Linked DNA regions of Homo sapiens. The protein of the gene in region 3 interacts with the protein of the main gene of each other region in a biochemical or structural test. Each region holds a gene or a part of one and is shown on either strand. Other genes may lie near its edges.

The links.
Region 1: the proteins of CENATAC (region 3) and NAT10 form a complex in vitro, tested with the Homo sapiens proteins (one study listed by BioGRID).
Region 2: the proteins of CENATAC (region 3) and SASS6 form a complex in vitro, tested with the Homo sapiens proteins (one study listed by BioGRID).

Annotation. Positions count from the first base shown.
Region 1 is NC_000011.10:34,129,627-34,136,647, reverse strand, and holds part of NAT10 (RNA cytidine acetyltransferase), read right to left. Parts: intron 5,836-7,021; coding exon 5,711-5,835; intron 5,268-5,710; coding exon 5,117-5,267; intron 4,524-5,116; coding exon 4,427-4,523; intron 3,623-4,426; coding exon 3,506-3,622; intron 2,330-3,505; coding exon 2,228-2,329; intron 2,137-2,227; coding exon 2,062-2,136; intron 1,474-2,061; coding exon 1,357-1,473; intron 7-1,356; coding exon 1-6. UniProt on the Homo sapiens protein: RNA cytidine acetyltransferase that catalyzes the formation of N(4)-acetylcytidine (ac4C) modification on mRNAs, 18S rRNA and tRNAs.
Region 2 is NC_000001.11:100,129,912-100,137,697, forward strand, and holds the start of SASS6 (spindle assembly abnormal protein 6 homolog), read right to left. Parts: upstream 3,020-7,786; 5' UTR 2,904-3,019; coding exon 2,839-2,903; intron 1-2,838. Other genes in the region: TRMT13 (tRNA:m(4)X modification enzyme TRM13 homolog), read left to right, coding at 3,258-3,404, 6,971-7,017, 7,108-7,174.
Region 3 is NC_000011.10:119,008,137-119,015,157, forward strand, and holds part of CENATAC (centrosomal AT-AC splicing factor), read left to right. Parts: intron 1-2,627; coding exon 2,628-2,694; intron 2,695-3,084; coding exon 3,085-3,147; exon of another isoform or gene 3,148-3,175; intron 3,176-3,802; coding exon 3,803-3,867; intron 3,868-4,012; coding exon 4,013-4,118; intron 4,119-5,095; coding exon 5,096-5,126; intron 5,127-6,857; coding exon 6,858-6,947; intron 6,948-7,021. UniProt on the Homo sapiens protein: Component of the minor spliceosome that promotes splicing of a specific, rare minor intron subtype. Negative regulator of centrosome duplication.

The sequences.
Region 1 (7,021 bases), about 85 Mb from region 3:
GACAGCCTGGGAAGATGCCAAGGAGAGAACACAGTCCATTCAGCAGAGGGAGAGAGACATCGTCAAGCACCCTGCCGCAGCGCACTCTGGACTTAGCACAACAAAAACTGGGAGAGGTTTCTTGGTTTATTGCTGTGGTTTTCAAACTATGAGAACACCGGAGTCAAGCAATCATTCTCAAAACACCTCAACATGCATAGAATCACACTGCTTCAGACCTCTAGAATGCAGGAAGACAGCCAAAGAGTTTAGAAACGACTGACAGAGGCCGGGAGTGGTGGCTCATGCCTGTAATCCCAGCACTTTGGGAGACTGAGGCGGGTGGATCACCTGAGGTCAGGAGTTTGAGACCAGCCTAGCCAACATGGCAAAACCCCATCGCTACTGGAAATACAAAAATTAGCTAGGCACGGTGGTGTGTGCTTGTAGTCCCAGCTACTCAGGTGGCTGAGGCAGGAAAATTGCTTGAACCTGGGAGGCAGAGGTTGCAGTGAGCTGAGATCACGCCATTACACTCCAGCCTGGGAGACAGAGCAAGACTCCATCTCAAAAAAAAAAAAAAATGCCCAACAGATTTACAAAGGGACAGGCAGGCTCCTGTGATCCAGCATGAAGTCCAGGTTCTATCACCTGACAGCCTTAGGAAGTGACAAACCTCTGAGCTTGAACTTTTTTTTTCATTGCTTGAGACAGGGTCTGGCTCTGTCACCCAGGCCAGAGTCCAGTGGCGAGATCACAGCTCACTGCAGCCTCAACCTTGGGGTTCAAGCAATCTTCCCACCTCAGCATCCCAAGTAGCTGGGACTACAGGCGTGCACCACCATGCTCGGCTAATTTTTGTATTTTTTGTAGAGATGGAGTTTCGCCATGTTGCCCAGCTGCCTCAACTTAAATAAAAGCCCCTTGTCTAGCTCTCAAATATACATACTATGAAAATCAATGAATGCACATGAAAGGCTGTCACAGTTACTAGTATTAGTCATTCTTATCAAGGAATGACAGAACTTCCCTTAGTCTGGTGTAGGATGAAAGAGATTATAGAGCAGTGATTCTCAAACTTGAATGAGCATCAGAATCACCTGAGAATCTTGTTAAACTACAGATTACAGGGTCTACCCCAGAGTTTCTGATTCAGTAGGTCTGGAGTGGGGCTCAAGAATTTACATTTTTAACAAGCTGCCAGATGATCCCAATGATACTGATCTGAGGATCTAAAGTGTTCGGTAGGAGAAAGCAGCAGAAGAAAATGAGAGAGGGGTCCAAAGCTCTGGACTGGTTTTTGTTGATGCCCCTAAAAACCCAGAGAATTATCCTCCCAAGAACCAGGACACAGGAGGTCTGTCGAAAGATGCTTACCTCGCTGCTTACGGTGTGAATTTCCTGTGGTGTCTCAAGGACCTTTTCCTCCAGACAAGGAAACCTGCCTTCATAGTACATCTGCAGCAGCTGCAGAGCACGGCTGCCATAGCCCATCTAGGAGCAAACGTGAAGGGGAAGAGGCCGAGGGAAGAGAGCTGCTCTCAGTCTAAGCCACAGTGACTCCCCTGCATTGCTTCTAGAGAACCTTCCCTCCCTGTCAAACAGCACGGGGCAAGAGAACCAATGAAAACCCTGAGTGAGGTCAAAGCAGAGACACTTAAGACTGAAAGTAGTGTGACCCGAGTTCTTAACACTGGTCTAGCTCATCAAGAACAGCCACTTGAGGGTAAGGATGGCTGTGCTTTCTGGTCTCCAGATGGGCAAGCCCAAATGAGAGGCAGTTTCTGTACCATTGCCTGAAAAGGAAGTTTCTACAGCCAATTACTCAGTGAGGTGTTCTAAGAAGGTAATTTTGTTATGCAGGTCTGGTTCACAAGTCCTCGTTCTCACAAAGGAAGAGTGAGCATATGCCATCATCCTGTCCACCCACCCACCCCGAACCCTGGCTCAATTCTCCAGAGCAGGGAAGTGCCTACACTTCACTTGCTTCTGCTTGACCAGCTTCTTATTCCAGCCACCAAGTACCCCCACCCTAAAGCACCGCCAGCAACACGGCTTCAGGGGAGCCTGAGGACACATTACCCCTTGATAATCTGGGTGAACAGCAATGCGAACGACCCTTCCACCAGACAGACCACCAAAGTCTGGATCTTGGAACTGTGTGGGAGACACAAACCAGTAACTTAGCAACACAGACATCTTTGGACACCACCAGCTTCCCTCAGACACACCAGGGAAAGCCCGTCACCTGTTCTGACACTGTCCATGGAATCAGGTCCCCTGAAGCCTTCTTGCCTCGAGACAGACTGTTCAAGATGGACTGGCGAGAAATCTCCCCTTCAAGGCACACCTGTGGGGGAAGCAGGACAGTGCAGGCAGAAAGGCCAACTCTGATACAGAGCCCACTCACAGAATATAGCTTGTTTCTCGAACTAGGCCAGTTGTTTCCACCCCCATGTTCAGGTTTAACCCTGACACTGACACATCCATTCCCCCCGCTCTTTTGAGATGGAGTCTCACTCTGTCGCCCAGGCTGGAGTGCAGTGGTGCTATCTCGGCTCACTGCAAGCTCTGCCTCCTGGGTTCATGCCATTTTCCTGCCTCAGCCTCCCGAGTAGCTGGGACTACAGGTGCCTACCACCACACCCGGCTTATTTTTTGTATTTTTTTTTTTTTTTTTAGTAGAGAAGGGGTTTCACCGTGTTAGCCAGGATGGTCTTGATCTTCTGACCTTGTGATCCGCCCGCCTCGGCCTCCCAAAGTGCTGGGATTACAGGCGTGAGCCATGGCGCCTGGCCTGACACATCCATTCTTAACAGGAGCTTAATTACCAGGCCCCATGTTACAGGGCAGAAGACTGACAGCCTCCTGACCCAAAAAGTAAAAGCCACATTAGAAGAGAGTCTCTATGTATGCTGTGCGTGTGTGAAGGCCATCAAGACACAGGATGCTCATGAGGCTCTGTACAGAACAGCACAAGTTCAAAATAACTAAAATGTCTAACAGGTGAATGGTTGAACAAATCATGGTACATGTATATAATGAAATACTACACAGCTTTAAAACTTATGTAGATTATGAGTGTTTTATACACTGCCTAAAAATAAAAGCAGATTACTATGTATATGAAAAGGAAAAGTGATATAGAAATGCATAAATACATCCATGCTAGGCATTAAAAATTTGTTCCCCAATCTGTAGCCTCTAATTCAAAATGCACCATGTATTGCTTTTGTAATAAAGGGAGAAAACAAACAAGTCTGTTTGTGGAAGAAGCTGTGAGTCAAAATAAGAGAGCGGTCGGTTCTGGCTTTTCCCCGTCCGTCAACAGTGGAGCTTTGGGTGTCTAGTGGCGCTAACCTCTTCCAGTGCACCCTAGTCACCTGTCTCAGCAGACCCAGCCCCTTGGTTCCAGACCAGGACTCCACAGTTTCAAAACTCCCACAATGCAGTTATTAAGCCACTAATTCCTGATGCCTCAGTGGTTCCCCAAATCACTGCCACAAGGACGCCTCTGCTCCTATACCTGGATAACAGCAAGCACTTCTGGAAGGGCATTCTGGGTGGGGGGCACGGGAGGCAGAAGGCAGAAGAGATGGTGAGCAGGTGCATCGGAGAGCATCTGGAGATCATTGGGAGAGTTCTGTGGAAGCCAAACACGGGTCAGTGAGAAGCACTCTTCCTCTTGCCCTTTACGCAAAAGGTTCGATTCAGAACCACAGGATGACTGCAGTATGGCCTTCTCCAAAGCCAAGTGAGGAGCAGAAGTCCAGCAAAGCACCTTTCTAGTATTTTGGCAAGCCTGAGACTCTTCATAACAGGTTAAGTGGAACTTAGCCTCAAATGCCTACTGTCCTCTCACCCCGAGCACTGAGGCTGGACAGAAGAAGAGAATTTATTTAGCACTACTTATTTCACAGCTAGGAAGTGAACTTTTTACAGATAAGAGGCTGCTATTTCAGGAAAAACTGTCACCACTTCTAACACCAACTCTTCAAGCCTTCCATTAAAAGCTGTTCATAAAAATACTATCTAGACATTCAAAAAGTATCCTTTTTAACCAACCCTTTTGTTTTTAAGAGTCTCAGATATTCTAAACCCTCAAATTCACTGTTCCATAAAAGTAGCCCAGAGCTATAAAGCTGGTCTCAGGTCAAACTGCACCACCGGGCCACAACTGCAATGTCACCTCATCCTATCAGTTTAGTAGGCAGGCAAGAAATGAAAGCACTCCTTTAAAAATGGACACAGCTTTCCACCCTGTCCCGTTACTGCATGGAGCTACATGCTCTATACCTACACACAGCAAGATCAGTGGAACTCATCAATGTCCCAATGGAACAGTCACCTAAGCCATTGGGTAATAAAATATGCAAATCAAGTAAAAGGGGACTGCCAAATGCTGAAGCTCCCTGCTACCATTCACACAAGGGCTAGCTGCAGTTACCTTGTAGTGAGAAGCCACGTAGAGGGCCATAAGCCGTTGGAGGAAAACTTCAGAGGCCTTGTGGTAGCAAAAGAGGGTATCTCTATTAACATAGTACCTGGGTCTGGAGTTAAGAAACCAAAACAAAACAAATAGCCGAAGACAGGTCATACTACTCTCTGGAGGCAGAACAAATTTCCGTAGCTGGGAACAGGAGCTCAGTGTCCTAAGCAGAAACACATAAAAGAAGGAAGAAGAGGGCCAGGCGCGTTGGCTCACACCGGTAATCCCAGCACTTTGGGAGGCTGAGGCAGGCAGATCACAAGGTCAGGAGTTTGAGACCAGCCTGACCAACATGGTGAAACCCTGTCTCTACTAAAAATACAAAAATTAGCCAGACGTGGTGGCTGGCACCTGTAATCCCAGCTACTCAAGAGGCTGAGGCAGGAGAATCACTTGAACCCGGGAGGCAGAGGTTGCAGTGAGCTGAGATTGTGCCACTGCACTCTAGCCTGGTGACAGAGCGAGACTCCATCTCAAAAAAAAAAAAAAGAAAGAAAAAAAAAAAAGGAAGAGAAAAAGGAAATTGAAAATGTTCAACTTTCCCCTTTCTCTAGAGCAGCATCCTATGAAACAAAGGACTCAAGTCCTTTGAATTCTTTCACCGCCCCTCTCCTTTTCACAGGGCCAGTGAAACCCAGAGGAGGATACAGTTCACAAGCTTCAGGCAAGGGGCAGCCTGAGACTATCCGAGTGATGTTGAGGCAATCCAGGCACAGCAAGTCATTCAGCCACTTCTCCACTGCATCCCCAGGGGCGTATCGGATTGACTCCTGGAGGGAAACCTCATACAGTGTCCGCGCTGCTCCCCACAATCACACACACAAAAGAAGAAACAATGATTAAATATGTATTGTCTAAAAAAGCAAGGAAAAATGTTTCACTTTATATTTGTCCCATGGTGGCCAGAGACGTGTGGTAAGAATTTAAACTGGGTGGTTTAAAATTGTTTTTGGTGGATATTCAACTTGCCACGATACCAACCCCAAAGGGATCTCAATGCAACCATGCCCTGAGACAAGGACACACAAGGGCCCCACCATCAGAAGGCCCTAGTCTGGCTCCCATCTGGTCACTGGACTGCTGTTCCTCCGAAAAAAGCTACTTCTCCTCTTGGGGACTCAACCTCTCAGCCTGATGGTGGGAAGGTTTGGTGCTTCCCATGATGTCACAGGGGAAGCGAGGATCAGTAAGACTGAAGGGCCTTGCTGTGAACCGCGGGACCCGGGTCAGGTTCTGGGGTACCTGATGCCAATCTGGCTGTCGTCGTGGTCTTATTCTCAGCAGTGGTGCTGACCTGGCTCTGGGCGCTCTGTTGACGGAGCTGCTGAATTAGCTTGAGGGACAGTGACCGGCCAGTGCCCTCATAGCTAGAAACAAAGGCAAAAGGAATCAGGCACAAGGTCCCAAATCCACTGTCTAGGAGGGGACAGAGAGCTGCTTTCCTCCACCTGCTGAAACACCAGACCCCTGCTTCCCCCAGGACAGCCTTGCTCATCTCTGAACTTCCAGCATAGCAGGCACCTGTCCAAAGGAGGCAGGGTGGCACGGTGGCTGAGCTTGGGGCCACCCAGGCCTGGGCTCACGTCCTGGCTCATCTACTTAGTATCTTTGGGCAAGGAGCTGAATCTCTTTTCGCCTCATCTTCAAGAGGGGATTATTCTATACACCTCACAGGACTGTGATGTGAACTTAAAAAATAAGGACTGGAAAAAGGATGTAAGTAAAGCCTTTAGCATAAAGGCTTTAGGCAGTTTTAGTGAAGCTGGAACAAAGTTAAATGGTCAACTAACGGAGCTGCTTTTAGAAGTACGGTGCATAAGGAAATGAACTGAGAACATTTCCAGTTTGGAAAATAAAACAAATCCACCACCTCAGTAATTCTTTTCATTGCTATGCCCACTTATAAGGTGACATAAAATAGCTAAAAAATGTTGAGAAAAAAATTAAATCACCTATAATCTGATAACTCAATCAGCTTTCATTGTTGAGTTTTCTTCTCCTTGTCTTTAGTCACAGGCATATGTCACCACAGGGTACACACAGCACTTTTCATTACATCATTTCATAGTACTCATTATTATATTCAAAGACTGTAAAATACTTCCTCTTACTCAAATAATGATAAAAGCTAGATGTTTTATGCCCACTCTCCACACCACATAACAAAGCTCTCCCAAAAGTATCCTATTTATTTATTTAAGAAAAAAGAGTAAGCACAAGCAACAAAACTTCAAAACTTTTGTCGTTAAAAGACATTATTATAAAGAAAGTGGCCGGGCATGGTGGCTCATACCTATAATCCCAGCACTTTGGGAGGCCGAGGCGGGTAGATCACCTGAGGTCAGGAGTTTGAGACCAGCCTGACAAACATGGTGAAACCCCGTCTCCACTAAAAATACAAAAGTTAGCCAGGCATGGTGGTACACACCTGTAATCCCAGCTACTCAAGAGGCTGAGGCAGGAGAAATGGGTTGAACCTGGGAGGTGAAGGTTGCAGTGAGCCAAGATTACACCACTGCACTCCAGCCTTGGCGACAGAGTCAGAGTCTGTCT
Region 2 (7,786 bases), on a different chromosome or scaffold from region 3:
TTAGTGTACTTATATTACTTTATGCATTTGTCACACATTAATACCTAAAATTTAGTGAACATTTATTATGCTCTAGTCACTGTTGTAAGCAGTTCATATGTATAATTCATTCCATTCTCATAATACCATGAAGTAGGTACTGTTATTACCATCAACTTAAAGATGAGACACAGAGAAGGAAATTGTACAAGATCTGTCAGTAAGTGGAAGAACTGGGACTTAAACCCAGGCAATCTGGCTCCAGAGCCTGAACTCCTAATCTGTGCTATGGTGCCTGTTCAAGGAAAATCTTATTTCCCCTATTAAAATGTGAGTTCCTTGAGGGACAGAATGAAAAGAGGTTTTTGTTGGCTTTTGTTGTTGTTGGGGACGGAGAGGGGGGTGCGTATTTACATCCTCCACACTTAGGACAGTTCCTGAGACACAGCAGACATTTGCCAGTATTTGTTGAGCTGAACTGGCCTCAAATACTCAACCAAGGCGTCTGGGCTGGGCGTGGTGGCTCACGCCTATAATCCCCGAATTTTGGGAGGCTGGGGTGAGAGGATCACTTGAGCCCAGGTGTTCAAGACCAGCCTGGGCAATACAGGGAGACCCCGTCTCTTTTAAATTAAATTAACAACAAAAAAAAGCCAGGCGTGGTGGTATGCGCCTGTAATTGCAGCTACTCAGGAGGCTAAGGTGAGGGGAACCCTTGGGCCCAGGAGGTCAAGGCTGCAGTGAGCTGTAATCGTGCTACAATACTCCAGTCTGGGCAACAGAGCGAGACTCTGTCTAGAAAAAAAAAAAAAAAGAGAGAGAGAAAGAGAGAGAGTCTGGGTTGTTCTTCCTATAGGTCAAGGATCACCAAATTATTCTGTAAAGGGCCAGATAGCAAATATTTTAGGCTTTGCGGGCCATAAGGTCTCTGTCACAATTACTCATCTCTGCCCTTCCTGTGCAAAAGCAGCTACAATATGTAAACAAATGAGCATGGCTGTATTCCAAGAAAAGTTTATTTACGAAAACAGTGAGCCAACTGGCCCATGTGCTCCAGTTTGCTGACCCCTATTATACAGATAATAGGAATATATTAAAGGTTTCTAAGCAGAGAAATTGAGTTTTTAGATTAACTGTGATGGCAATGTAACCAGAAAGAGACCATCTAGGAGTTTCCATATTGAAACCAAAGTCATGGCCTCCTTTATCTTTCTATAATCATTCTAAAACAGTGTTGTCCAATGGAGATACAATGTAAGCCACAAATGTGAGCCAGGTATGTAATTTTAATTTTTTTCTTTTTCTTTTTTTTTTTTCAGAGACAGGATCTCGCTCTATCACCCAGGCTGGAGTACAGTGGCACAAATAGTAGCTCACTGTAACCTCAAGCTTAGGCTCAAGCAATCCTCCTGTCTTGGCCTCCTAAAGTGCTGGGACTACGGGTGTGAGCCACCATACCTAGCCTACTTTTAAATTTTCTAGAAGTCACATTTTAAAAAGACTTTTAAAAGCAGGTGAAATTAATTTTAATAATACATTGTATTTAACCCAATATACCCAAAAATATTGCCATTTAACACATAATATAAAAATTGACATATTTTACATTCTTTTTTCATAGTAAGTCTTAAAAATCCAACGTGCATTTTCATATGTAAAGCACAACAATTCAGATAAGCCCCATTTCAAATGTCTAATAACCACATGTGGCTAGTGGCTACCATACTGGACAGCATTAAAAGAATGATCAACTAAACCTACAGATCTCCATATGCAGCTGCTGGTTTTGGGACCATCTCCTTGACCGGCTTGCCATTGATTTTTGACCGAATTCTGAACTATATATACTACAGTTTGACATTACTGGCAACTCAATAAGGCAATGTCTTCATTTTTTATGTTACATTTGTACACCACTTAGTTTTCACATACGATTTCACACCTGATCCTCATTACAAACACGTGAATACGCAAAAGATTTCACACCTGATCCTCATTACAAACACGTGAATACGCATGTTATATCAGTTTTACAAATGAGGAAAGAACGTTCAGAGAAAAAAAGAGACAACCATTGAGTGTTAGAACTGAGAAAAAAAAAGTAAGTCTCCTGACCTCTGGTCAAATCTATTTACGCCCCAATAATACCACCTCCTTAATCAAAGTTGCACTTCTCTGTGCGACTGGTCTTTATTTCCTCCAGTGATTGTAAACTCCATGAAGAAAAGGACTGTTTTTCCTGACCACTGTATTCCCAGTGCCCAGTAAGGTGTTTTACAAGGAGGCAATATTTATTGAATGAATTAATGACGTTTCTGCTTTTCTCATTTTTAGTCGGTTAAATGTAATTTACTTTTTTAAAGCAACTGATGTGAAGAGCCAAAGTACGCCACCAAATTGGTAGGTTTTTAAAAGTTGAACTTTACTGCCAACATACTTCAAAAGAGAACGAGGGGGAAAGGCTCGGAGCCAAGGCCTGAGTTCTAGTCCTGACCCTGCCATGAACTGGCTGTGAGCCCTCACGTAAATTTTTTTAACTTCTCTGGGCCAGAGTTCTTATCTGTCAAAAGGGAAGAGTAGGGCTATAATCTTCACGATTCCGTGCACAGGTAGGGTTTTTGACATTAACTTGATGTGAGCCGGCTTCCTAACTCCTCACACCCTTCCTCCAGTCCCCTCTGCAACGGCCGACTTGGTGAGAGAGGTAACCACCGGGCCCTCTGGGTTCCCTATCCGCTTCCTAGGGGGGCCGACTCGACACCTAGGTGCAAGGTGGATCCCACGGGCCAGAACCGCCATCTTTCCCCATTGGCCTGACCCCAACCGCCACCCGCGGGCACTGGATGACGCGGACCTTACCTCTCCTCACAGTCTTTGCATTTCACCTGCAACGGGACTAGTTGGTGGAACAGCACTTGGCTCATGTTGGCTCGCTGCCTCGGCTGGTGTGCAGAAAAGCCCAACAGGCCCGGCCCTCGGGATTAGCCTGAGAGGTCCGGGTCCTGATAAAGTTTGAGTTTGGCGCTCGGCTTCTGCGGAGGAGGCGGGGAGGGAGAAACGAGGGGAAGGCGTAAGAGACTTGGCCCTCGCCAGCCACCATCGGATTCTTCCGGTTCTGCGGAGGATAAAGGGAAGACGGTTGTGGTAGTTCCGGGTATTAACCTGTGTGGCGCGGGGGCTGAGGCAGCCATGTTTGTTAAGGGAAGGAGACCCGAAGGAAGCTTCTAACTTTTCTTCTGGTTGCCGGATGCTGGACACCGGAAGCGAGCCCTAGAATTATGGCGACCTCCGCGACGTCGCCGCACGCGCCTGGTTTTCCAGCTGAGGGTAGATGCGGTTACTATGTGGAAAAGAAGAAACGGTTCTGCAGGATGGTGGTGGCCGCAGGGAAAAGATTTTGTGGTGAACACGCTGGAGCCGCGGAGGTGTGGTATCGCCCTACTCTCTCAAGAGTCGGAAATAAGTATCCTGGTCCTGTCGGTGCTGGAACCCGGCCCCTCCCCTCTTTGACAGCTTTCTGCTTGTGTCCCCTGGATTCTCCAGCTTTCACTTTAATAAACCCAGTTTTGCCCTCCTTGCGGAGCGATTATGAGTTCTAGTGATGAGAAATTTTTTATTTTTCTAAGTAAAGCGCCAGCAGTGACCCATTTATTTTGATCTATTTATCTCGATCTTAACTCATGGTAATGCTAGGTTTTAATTTTTACCCCAAGCTACCGCTCCGTCTTCCTGCTGGAAAGTGGTAGTTTAGAAAAAGTAGTGATTGAAGTCCCAAAGGTTTCACTAGTTGTGTTCTAATTGTTATTTCATGAAAGAGAAGCACTTCTCGTGAATGCGGTTGGAAGAAACTTTCTTTTAAAAATTTAGACTTGAGGCCCGGCGCGGTGGCTCACGCCTGTAATCCCAGCACTTTGGGAGGCCGAGGCGGGCGGATCACTTGAGGTCAGGAGCTCGAGACCAGCCTGGCCAACATGATGAAACCCTCTCTCTACTAAAAATAAGAAAATCAGCCGTGGCGCGAGCTACTAAAATTAAGAAAATCGTGGTGGTGCGAGCCTGTAACCCCAGCTACTCGGGAGGCTGAGGCAGGAGAATCGCTTGAACCCAGGAGGTGGAGGTGGCAATAATCCAAGATCACACCACTGCATTCCAGCCTGGGTGACAGCCAGACTGAATCTCAAAAAAGAAAAAAAAATTTTTTTCGACTTACAGTTTTTAAGAATGCAACTTTGCTGGAATGGGAAGGAAAGATTTTTAAATATATACGAATTGACCTTTTACAATTGAGAACAAAGCATACAATTTTGTTTGATAATTATGCATATAAATGTACTATCAAACACTTTATATTTGTATATATGTATATTACTTTAGGATATATATGAGATGGGAAAATAAAAACCAGAGGAGCAAAATGCTCATAGGAAGAGAGCATGTCCTTATAGTTCCACAGAACTATAAAGAATAAACCAAAGCGATCAGCATCAGATTTCATGCTTCTGAATGTTCAGTATTATTTGCATTATTTTATTTCTTAAGGAATTTATTCTTCTAGACAATATCCAGTGCAGATCAGTCCCCTGACCCCCTTCATCTGCCACTCTCCATCATAGTTGTAGTCTACTTCCTATTTTGTTTTGACTGGCATTTACCAAAAGTGAAGCATACTGAAACAAGGACATTCTTGTTTTGGAATATGGGAGACGTGATTTGTTGTGGGAACTCTGAATTATGCCCATAGTCTATTGACTGGTTTTGAGGGGACTGGCAAACATCCCTTGTTGAAGAATGAGAGTTATGATAGGAGAAGGATTTAGACTCCACCTTATCCAGATATATGGAAGGTGAAAACAAATAGTGATGATAGTAGAATATGAATAAATCCTTACAAGCTGATTAGTATTCCTATAGAGGAACGACATATTGTCATTAGACACTTGAAGAGAGACCGCAAAACATCAAGTGGAAACACTTTTATTGACTACTATCTCGTTTTAAATTGTGGCTATCCTCCTGAATCTGTAATTTATGATGTAACTGGATGTTGTGTTTCCATCTTTTTTTCTAAGTGTCATATATAGCTGTGATGACACCACTCATTTTTACCCAGTGGTTCTCGACTGGGACTGATTTTGCCTCCAGTGAACACTTGGCAAAATGAAGACATTTTGGTTGTCAAACTGAGGAGTATCACTGACATCTAATGGATAGAGACCAGAAATGCTGCTAAACCTCCTACAAATCACAGGACAGCCCCCTGCACTCACCCCCTCAAAAGAATTACCTGCCCAAAACGTCAATAGTGCCAAGATTGAGAATTCCTGTTTCTAAATTCAACTAATAAATTTTAAATGTGCTTTTTTTTTCCTATGCTACAGTTAGGCTCTGGGGGTTAGAATAGTCTTTTACATGGAGGTTAGGATTTAAAGTCAGCAATAAGGAAGAAATTATATACAGTATTTTCTTTTTCTTCTATTGAATATATAGTATTTTCAAAAAAAAAATTTCTTAGCTTTCCCATGAAATTCAGTGTGAATAGCTTCATGGACATGCTGAGAGGCACATTCGAACAGAAATAAATTTTTAAAAGAATAATAATAGCAGACACTTAGTCACCACTTACTCTATGTACAGCACTGGGCTAGGCAGTTTTGTTTTGTTAACTATTAGCTCACTTAATGTGTTCAAACCTTAGAAGGTAAGACATATTTTTGTTCTCATCTTTCAGATGAGGCAGTAAGCCTACCTAACTAAGGTCATAGGGATCGTAGCTGGTAGGTAGAGCTGGGTATCATACCTAGGCAGTCTGGCTGGCCTGTGTTCTTAACTGTTATATGACCCCTATTTATACAGATTCATGTGGAATATTGGGTAGAATTGCCAACATTATCAATTTTCCTTTCTTTTTTCCCAGTTCATATAGTCATGTGCCACATAATGACATTTCAGTCAACAACAGACCGCATATATGATGGTGGTCCCATAAGGTTATAATACTGTATTTTTACTGTACCTTTTCTATGTTTAGATATGTTTAGATACACAAATACTTACATTGTGTTACAATTGCCTACAGTATTTAGTATGGTAACATGCTGTACAGGTTTACAGCCTAGTAGCAATAGGCTATACTATATAGGCTAGATGTACAGTAGGCTATACTATCTAGGTTTGTGTTACTATACTGTATGATGTTCTCCCAATGACAAAATCACCTAAAGATATATTTCTCAGAATGTATTCCCAGTCATTAAGTGATGTAACTTAGGAATGAGTAGGATGTAACTGATAGTAAAAAGTTGCAAAGCCAGTAAAATATGGCACATCCAAATGGTTAAAATGCCATGTTCCATTGTTTCTAAGAAACTTTATTTTTACATTTTAACATTCTAAAATCAGGATACATCTTAAAATCCATATGTCAATGGGCAGCATTTTCCAAAAAATGATTAGTATGTGAGGCAATACATGTTAATTAGCTTGATTTAGCCATTCCACAATGTATACATATTTGAAAACATTATGTTGTATTAAAACCATACATAAATAATAGTGTATATTATTTTTATTGCCATAAAAATCACAATTACTTTTGTACAAACCTAATATGTGATAAATATATACAACTATTTGTCAATTAACATGAAATAGGCAGCATTTTTTTCTTTCTTGGTTGTGCATAAAATAGTCATACATATAATAGTTGATGCTATCTTAGATTTCAGACACCATATGTAGGCCTTCTCTATACCCTGTTTGAAGCTATAGACCCTTGTTTGTCCAAAGCAGTATTTGTTCATATGTATTTAAGCCAGTACACTGGAGAGTTTTTGTTAAACCCTTGGGACCTGATTTTGCCAACTTTTCATTATGTCCTTGTAAGGTTTCCTTACCTTGTTTTGAGATTACAGAGACACTGAAGTTATATCTGGTATCTGTAAGCAATAAACTTGATATTTTATTTAAATAAATGTATCTCTTAATTTATTAGGAAGAAGATGCTCGGAAAAGAATCCTGTGTCCTTTAGATCCAAAACAGTAAGTGTGGATCAGATACGGGTTTTTTTTTGTGCTGGAAACAGTAATTGGCACAAGTCTCATTTGAAATAATTTTCTCTTTAAATTTAGCACAGTATATGAAGATCAACTAGCAAAGCATTTGAAAAAATGTAACTCAAGAGAGAAACCAAAACCTGTAAGTGTTTGATCAGTAAAATTGAATGGTGAAATGTGGTATGTAATGCCTTGGTAGATGCTGCACATGGAATGTACTTGTTTCATAGCTGAGGAACCCAAGCTCAGGAAATATAATTTTTTTTTAAAGAGATAGGGTCTCACTCTGTCACTCAGGCTGGAGTGCAGTGGCGTGATCGTAGCTCACTGCAGCCTTGAACTCCTGGACTCAAGCAATCCTCTCACCTCAGCCTCATGACTAGCTGGGACTGTAGGCAAACGACACCACACCTGGCTTATTTTTTTATTTTTTTATAGAGACGGGGTTCTCGCTGTGTTGCCCAGGCTGGTCTCGAACTGCTGGTGTCAAGCAGTACTCCTGCCTCAGCCTCCCAAAGTGCTAGGATTATAGGCGTGAGCCACCAAATCCAGCCAGGAAATACAAATATTTTTAAATTGGGTAGTAGGCAAACCTGCCTGACTTTTGTTCCATAAGTAGACATTTATTTATTACACTGTACAATAAGGGCTGCCATGCGATCCAGGAGGTGACACCATTTCTGTCTTCCAAGGGTGCTTGGTATACAAGCTCCCTTGAAAAGGTAGTCTGGGAAAAAAGATAATCAGTGCCTTT
Region 3 (7,021 bases):
TTTCTAGTCGGGTGGGATGAGAGACGGAGAAAAGAAATAAGACACAGAGACAAAGTATAAAGAAACAACGGTGGGTCCAGGGGACTGGTGCTCAGCACACCAAGGACCTGCACCGGCACCGGCCTCTGAGTTCCCTCAGTTTTTATTGATTATTATTTTTCATTATTTCAGCAAAAAGGAATGTAGTAGGACAGCAGGGTGATAATAAGGAGAAGGTCAACAAATTACATGTGAGCAAAAGAATGTATATCACGATTAAGTTCAAGGGAAAGTACTATGCCTGGACGTGCACGTAGGCCAGACTTATGTTTCTCTCCACCCAAACATCTCAGTGGAGTAAAGACTACAAGGCAGTATCACTGTAAACATGTCTCGCCTCCCGCCACAGGGCAGCTTTTCTCCCATCTCAGAGTTGAACAAATGTACAATCGGGTTTTAAGCCGAGACATTCAGTTCCCAGGGGCAAGCAGGAGATAGTGGCCTTCCTCCATCTCACCTGCAAGAGGCTTTCCTCTTTTACTAATCCACCTCAGCACAGACCCTTTACAGGTGTCGGGCTGGGAGACAGTCAGGTCTTTCTCATCCCACGAGGCCATATTTCAGACTATCACATGGAGAGAAACCTTGGACAATACCCCGCTTTCAAGGGCAGAGGTCCCTGCGGCTTTCCACAGTGCATTGTGCCCCTGGTTTATTGAGACTAGAGAATGGCAATGACCTTTACCAGATGTACTGCTTGTAAGTATTTTGTTAACAAGGCACGTCCTACACAGCCCTAGGTCCCTTAAACCTTGATTTTATACAACACATGTTTTTGTGAGCTCCAAGTTGGGTCAAAGTGGCTGGGTCAAAGTGGCTGGGACAAAGCTACAAATCAACAACATCTCAGCAAAGCAACTGTTTAAAGTACAGGTCTTTTTCAAAATGGAGTCTCTTATGTCTTTCCTTCCTACATAGACACAGTGACAGTCTGATCTTTCTTTCTTTTCCCTACAACTTATTATTATTTTTGAGACAGAGTCTTGCTCTGTCACTGGCCTGGAGTGCAGTGGCCCGATCTCGGCTCACTGCAACCTCCACCTCCGAGGTTCAAGCAATTCTCGTCTCAGCCTCCCAAGTAGCTGGGATTACAGGCACCTGCCACCACATCTGGCTAATTTTTTGTGTTTTTGTAGAGACAGGGTTTCACTATGTTGGCCAGGCTGGTCTTGAACTCCTGGCCTCTTGATCCACCCGTCTCGGCCTCCCAAAGTGCTGGGATTACAGGCGTGGGCCACACCGCGCCTGGCTTAAATGATTTTTTAAAACTAAGTGGCTTAATATTCTGCAATTTTAATCTGAGAGGGGTGGAACAGAAAGCCCCATACCTCATCAGAACCTGGGAGTTGATGAGAAACCATTTGATGACAACCTCCTAGGGGAGATGGGGAGGGAAGTGGGAGATGGCCTCATAGCAGCTTCTGGCAGACCTTCCACCCTCGTGTTCCAGGAGGATTAAACAAGCCTTTCAGCCACAATTCGGTAAGGTGTGGCTCAAGCCATTGTCTCCTTGGATATATTCAAGGCTCTCAGGGAACACTGTTGATAGTGGTATTGGTATTATACTGAAACTTTGTGTTGAGAACCAGGGTTTTGAGAACCAGGGTTTTCACTATGGCAAAAGGAAGATACAAGTAAGGAATGGAGGCATTTGAATAGGGAGGTGACAGTACAAATTACTGATTTAAGGCCAGGCATAGTGGCTGATGCCTGTAATCCCAGTTCTTTGGGAGGCCAAGGCAGGAGAATTGCTTGAGCCCAGGAGTTCGAGACCAGCATGGGTGACATGGCAAAACCCTGTTTCTACAAAAAACACAAAAATTAGCCAGGCATAGTGGTGCTGTCCTGTAGTCCTACCTACTCAGGAAGCTAAGGCAGGAGGATCTCTTGAGCCTGGGAGCCTCTTGAGCAGAGGTTGCAGCGAGCTGAGGTTGTGCCACTGCACTCCAGCCTAGGCAACAGAGCGAGCCCGTCTCAAAAAAAAGACAAAGAAATTTAGGACAGTATGCAAGATTTGGCCTGGATTCTTCTGAGGATGTGAAGTAATGGAAACAGTAAGACTGTTCCAGACTAGGGGAAGACTAGAGACCTAATAGCTGGATTCCATGTGATCTTTTGTTGGACTTTGGGATTGGAGGTGAGAGTAGAGAAGGCATAATGCACGTTTTTGAGACGAGGGAAATGTGAATATAGCCTGTATGCCTACACTCAAGTCTGAAGACATGTAAACCATGTCTATACTAACCAGCCAAATATTTGAACACTAAAAGGAAGAATTTTCTTAATGTGGTAATGGTATCATGGTTGTATAGAATGTTCCTCCTCTTGGGAGATGTGTGTTGAAAATAGGGTTTGACGTCTAAACCTATTTTGTTTTGGCAAAAAGGACGTGTGTCTGTACAAAAGAAGTGGAGCCAGTATGGCAAAATGTTTACAAGGACTCTGGGTGAGAGGTACATAGGTGCTTACTATACTGTTTTGTTTCTGAATTTGGAATTTCTCAAAATTAAAAAAATATCTACTGAGGAGCTTTTCGTTTTAACTGGTGGGGAATGGGTTCTGGGTGGTTTTGCCCCTTTTCTTTTTAGATTCAAGAAATCCATGGTGAAAGGTTTGGATTCCTATGAAGAAAAGGAGGATAAAGTGATCAAGGAGGTAAGTTAAAGTAGCAGTCCCTCACCCTTTTTGCACCAGGGGCTGGTTTCGTGGAAGACGGTTTTTCCACAGATGGACCCAGGCAGGGGATGGTTTCAGAATGAGACTGCTCCACCTCAGATCATCAGGCACTAGATTCTCATAAGGAGCACGCAACCTAGATACCTTGCATGCCCAGTTCACAATAGTGTTTGTGCTCCTATGAGAATGTAACACCACCACTGATCTGACAGGAGCTCAGGCGGCAGTGCTGTTGCAGCCTGCTTCCTGACAGGCCACAGACCAGTACTGGTCCACGCCTGGGGGTGGAGGGCCCAAGTTAAAGGAAAGGCCTCTGAAGAAACTGGCCCCCATGATCCTGTACCTGTCTAAGCAGCCTCTCTCCCACAGATGGCAGCTCAGATCCGTGAGGTGGAGCAGAGCCGACAGGAGGTGGTTCGGTCTGTCTTAGAGGTTGGTTTCCCTCGGAGGATCCAGACCAGTATCCAAATCCACTGATCCCTGGCATTCCCAGGTCCAGCATTTCATGGACTAGTGCTTCTTCTTCTTCTTTTTTTTTTGGAGACAGAGTTTCGCTGTGTCACCCAGGCTGGAGTGCAGTGGCACGATCTCGGCTCACTGCAACCTCCACCTCCCAGGTTCAGGTTCAAGCGATTCTCCTGCCTCAGGCTCCCGAGTAGCTGGGATTACAGGTGCCGCCACCACGCCTGGCTAATTTTTATATTTTTAATAGAGGTGGTGTTTCACCATGTTGGCCAGGCTGGTCTTGAACTCCTGACCTCAGGTGATCCACCCGCCTCAGCCTGCTGGAATTACAAGCATGAGCCACTGTGCCCGGCCATGAACCAGTGCTTCTAAGAGAACTCTGACTGCATTCTCATCTGCTTGGCTTGAATTCCCTTACCTGTGTGCCAGGGGGCAGGCCTAGTCAGTGAATATGTGGACAGGACTGGGAGGGAGGGAGGGAAGAGTCTGTAAAAGATGGGCAGTACCTTCCATATGCTAATTTGTTTCCTTCCTGTGATACTGGGGTCTGGAGGGTGGAGGCATGGCCTAGGCAGGCTCTTAAGCATCCCAGACACATTTATTTTTCCTGAATCAAACTCAGCCTCAGGCAGTGCCAGACCCAGAAGAGGGCTCTTCAGCACCTAGAAGCTGGAAAGGGATGAACAGGTAAGACTATTAGGGAATCTCTTGTTGGGAATTTGACATCTTAGAACATTCTGCAACCTTTTGCCTGGGAAATGGAAACAGATCTAATCTTTACCACCCTCATGGCTCAAGGACCTCATCTGGCAGCCTGGCTCATGTTTTTCAGCCAAGTAGCTTCCAGCTTACAGCAGCCCTCAAATTTGGACCTGCCACCAGCTCCAGAGCTTGACTGGATGGAGACAGGACCATCTCTGACATTCATTGGCCATCAGGTACAAAGGATAAGCAAGCCAGAAGAGGGCCAATGGTCCCTCAGGTCTCAGGACCCCTTTCTCCTGATTTTCTACCTATTCAAGCCACTGCTGCCTCCACTGCAGGCTTTTCCTTCTTCCTTCACTGTTCCCTAGTAGTGTTCTCAGACCTCTTCTCACCCTCCAAAGCGATCCTATTCACATGTATTGACACTTAGGAGTGCCAACTCCTAAATCTTGCCCTCTGTAGAACTCATAGTTCCAACTCAACACAGGACATTAAATATCCCACAGGCATCTGAAACTAACCCCCACCACTCCTATATTTCCAATCACTAGATGCAGATCCTTTCCTTTTCCATCTCCCATATCCTGTCAACAAGCGGTCAATTTTAACCTGTCTGCCTCCATTCAGCCTTTGGGCAATTTCTACTCCCCCTTCAATCCTGCCTCACAAACAGAAAATCATTGTACCACTTATGATTTTACTCTACACTTCAGCTGTATTGTGTTGCTTCGGGCTTTTGCAGTTGCCATTGTCTAAAACCTGCTTTCCTTCCCTCATCACCTAGTTTACCTTCAACTGTTAGCTCAAATGTCACTTTTTCATAAAAGGCTTATCTGAACAGGTTATCTCTATTTCAAGTGGATGTAGCACCATGTAAAGTTGCAAATGTAATTTACGTAACTTGTGCTTAATGCTCTTCCCCAATTATATGTATGCTGTGAGGGCAAGGTTTTGCTCCCCTGGCATGTAATAGCCACTCTACTTACAGACATCTCCACTGTTATGACTGTGAGCTTCCTGAGGACAGGGTTGTCTTAGAGTGACTTACTGTGCTTTCAAAGTTTAACATCAGCTGGGGTGCAGAATTAGCATTGTGGCAGCAGTCACACCCACCTCTTTTAAAGTGTGCTTTGTCTATCGTTTCTAGGATTTTTTTTTTTAATCATGCCTAGACTTTAACTAGCACTTTTTTTCCCATTTCCAACTACAGGATATACCAGGAGTTGGTAACATCCACTCAGGTAAGGTCCAGGGCAGTGTTTTTAAAACCCTGGGAGATTTTTTTTTTTTTTTGAGATGGAGTCTTGTTCTGTCGCCAGGCTGGAGTGCAGTGGCGCAATCTCAGCTCGCTGCAACCTCTGCCTCTCAGGTTCAAGTGATTCTTCTGCCTCAGCCTCCCAAGTAGCTGGGGTTACAGGTGTGCACCACCACACCCAGCTAATTTTTTTTTTTTTTTTTTTGAGACGGAGTCTCGCTCTGTCGCCCAGGCTGGAGTGCAGTGGCGGGATCTCGGCTCACTGCAAGCTCCGCCTCCCGGGTTCACGCCATTCTCCTGCCTCAGCCTCCCAAGTAGCTGGGACTACAGGCGCCCGCCACTACGCCCAGCTAATTTTTTGTATTTTCAGTAGAGACGGGGTTTCACCGTTTTAGCCGGGATGGTCTCGATCTCCTGACCTCGTGATCCACCCGCCTCGGCCTCCCAAAGTGCTGGGATTACAGGCATGAGCCACCGTGCCCGGACTTTTTTTTTTTTTTTAAATAAAGTTGGCCAAGATAAAGCGTATGTATCGGTAAAAGCCTTATATCCAGAATATATGAAGAACTGTCAACTTGATAAGGAAACAACCCAATAAAAGCATATGAATAATGTTCAACATTAGTCATTAGAGAAATGCAAATTAAAACCACAGTGAAATACCACTACATATGTATTGGAATGGCAGAAATTAAAGACTGATCATGCCAAGTGTTTGGCAGTGTAGAAAAACCAAACCTTCATACACTGCTCTTAGAATGTAAACTGGTACAGTCACTTTGGAAAACAGTTTGGGATACACCTACCACATTATCCAACCGTTCCACCCCTAACTAGAGAAAAGAAAGCCTGTCTACATAGACTTGTACACAAATCTTCAGAACAGCTTCACTTGTAGCAGCTCCAAATTGGAAACAATTCAGATGTCTATCAACAGGCAAATGGATTAACAATGGAATAGTATTCCAGGATGAAGACAGAATTATTGATACGTACGACACAGATGAATCTCAGAAGTCCAGACCTGGCCGGCGTGGTGGCTCATGCCTGTAATCCCGACACTTTGGGAGGCCAAGGCAGGCGGATCACGAGGTCAGGAGTTCAAGACCAGTTTGGCCAACATGGTGAAACCCCATCTCTACTAAAAATTCAAAAATTAGCTGGGCATCGCAGCGCACGCCTGTAATCCCAGCTACTTGGGAGGCTGAGGCAGAATTGTTTGAACCGAGACCTGGGAGGCGGAGGTTGCAGTGAGCTGAGATTGTGTCCAGCCTGGGCTAGAGCGAGACTCCTCTCAAAAAAACAAAAGGCCAGACCCCACCTCAATGTCCACACACAGAAAATCCTAAAAAATACAAACCAATAAAGCAACTGAAAGATCACCGATTGCCTGGACATGAAAATATTTTAATGGGGGCAGTGATACTTACAGGGGGATGTTTGGGGTCTAGATTGTAATGGCTTCGCTCAAAAGTCACCAAATTTAAGTGTGTATCGTTTATGTCAGTTGTGCCTCAAAGCCATTTTAAAATGACTGTCACATATGGGGTATGTCGCTTTAAATTAGCCTAGGGCCTTCTAAAGCTCCAGAATTCCTGGGCTTTGCTTTTAGACATTTCTAGCTCTTAATGAGGAGAGGTAAGCTAACAGCTAGGACATGTTTCACAATAGCCTGAAGACTTAAAAAAAAAAAAAAAAGCCTTAATTTTTTTTTCAGGTGCCACACCTCCCTGGATGATCCAAGATGAAGAATACATTGCTGGGAACCAAGAAATAGGACCATCCTATGAAGAATTTCTTAAAGAAAGTAAGTAAACTAATTCAAGAGAGGATCGTCTAAATCTTCACACTCAAAAATGGTTTCCTTGCCTGTGTGTGGTG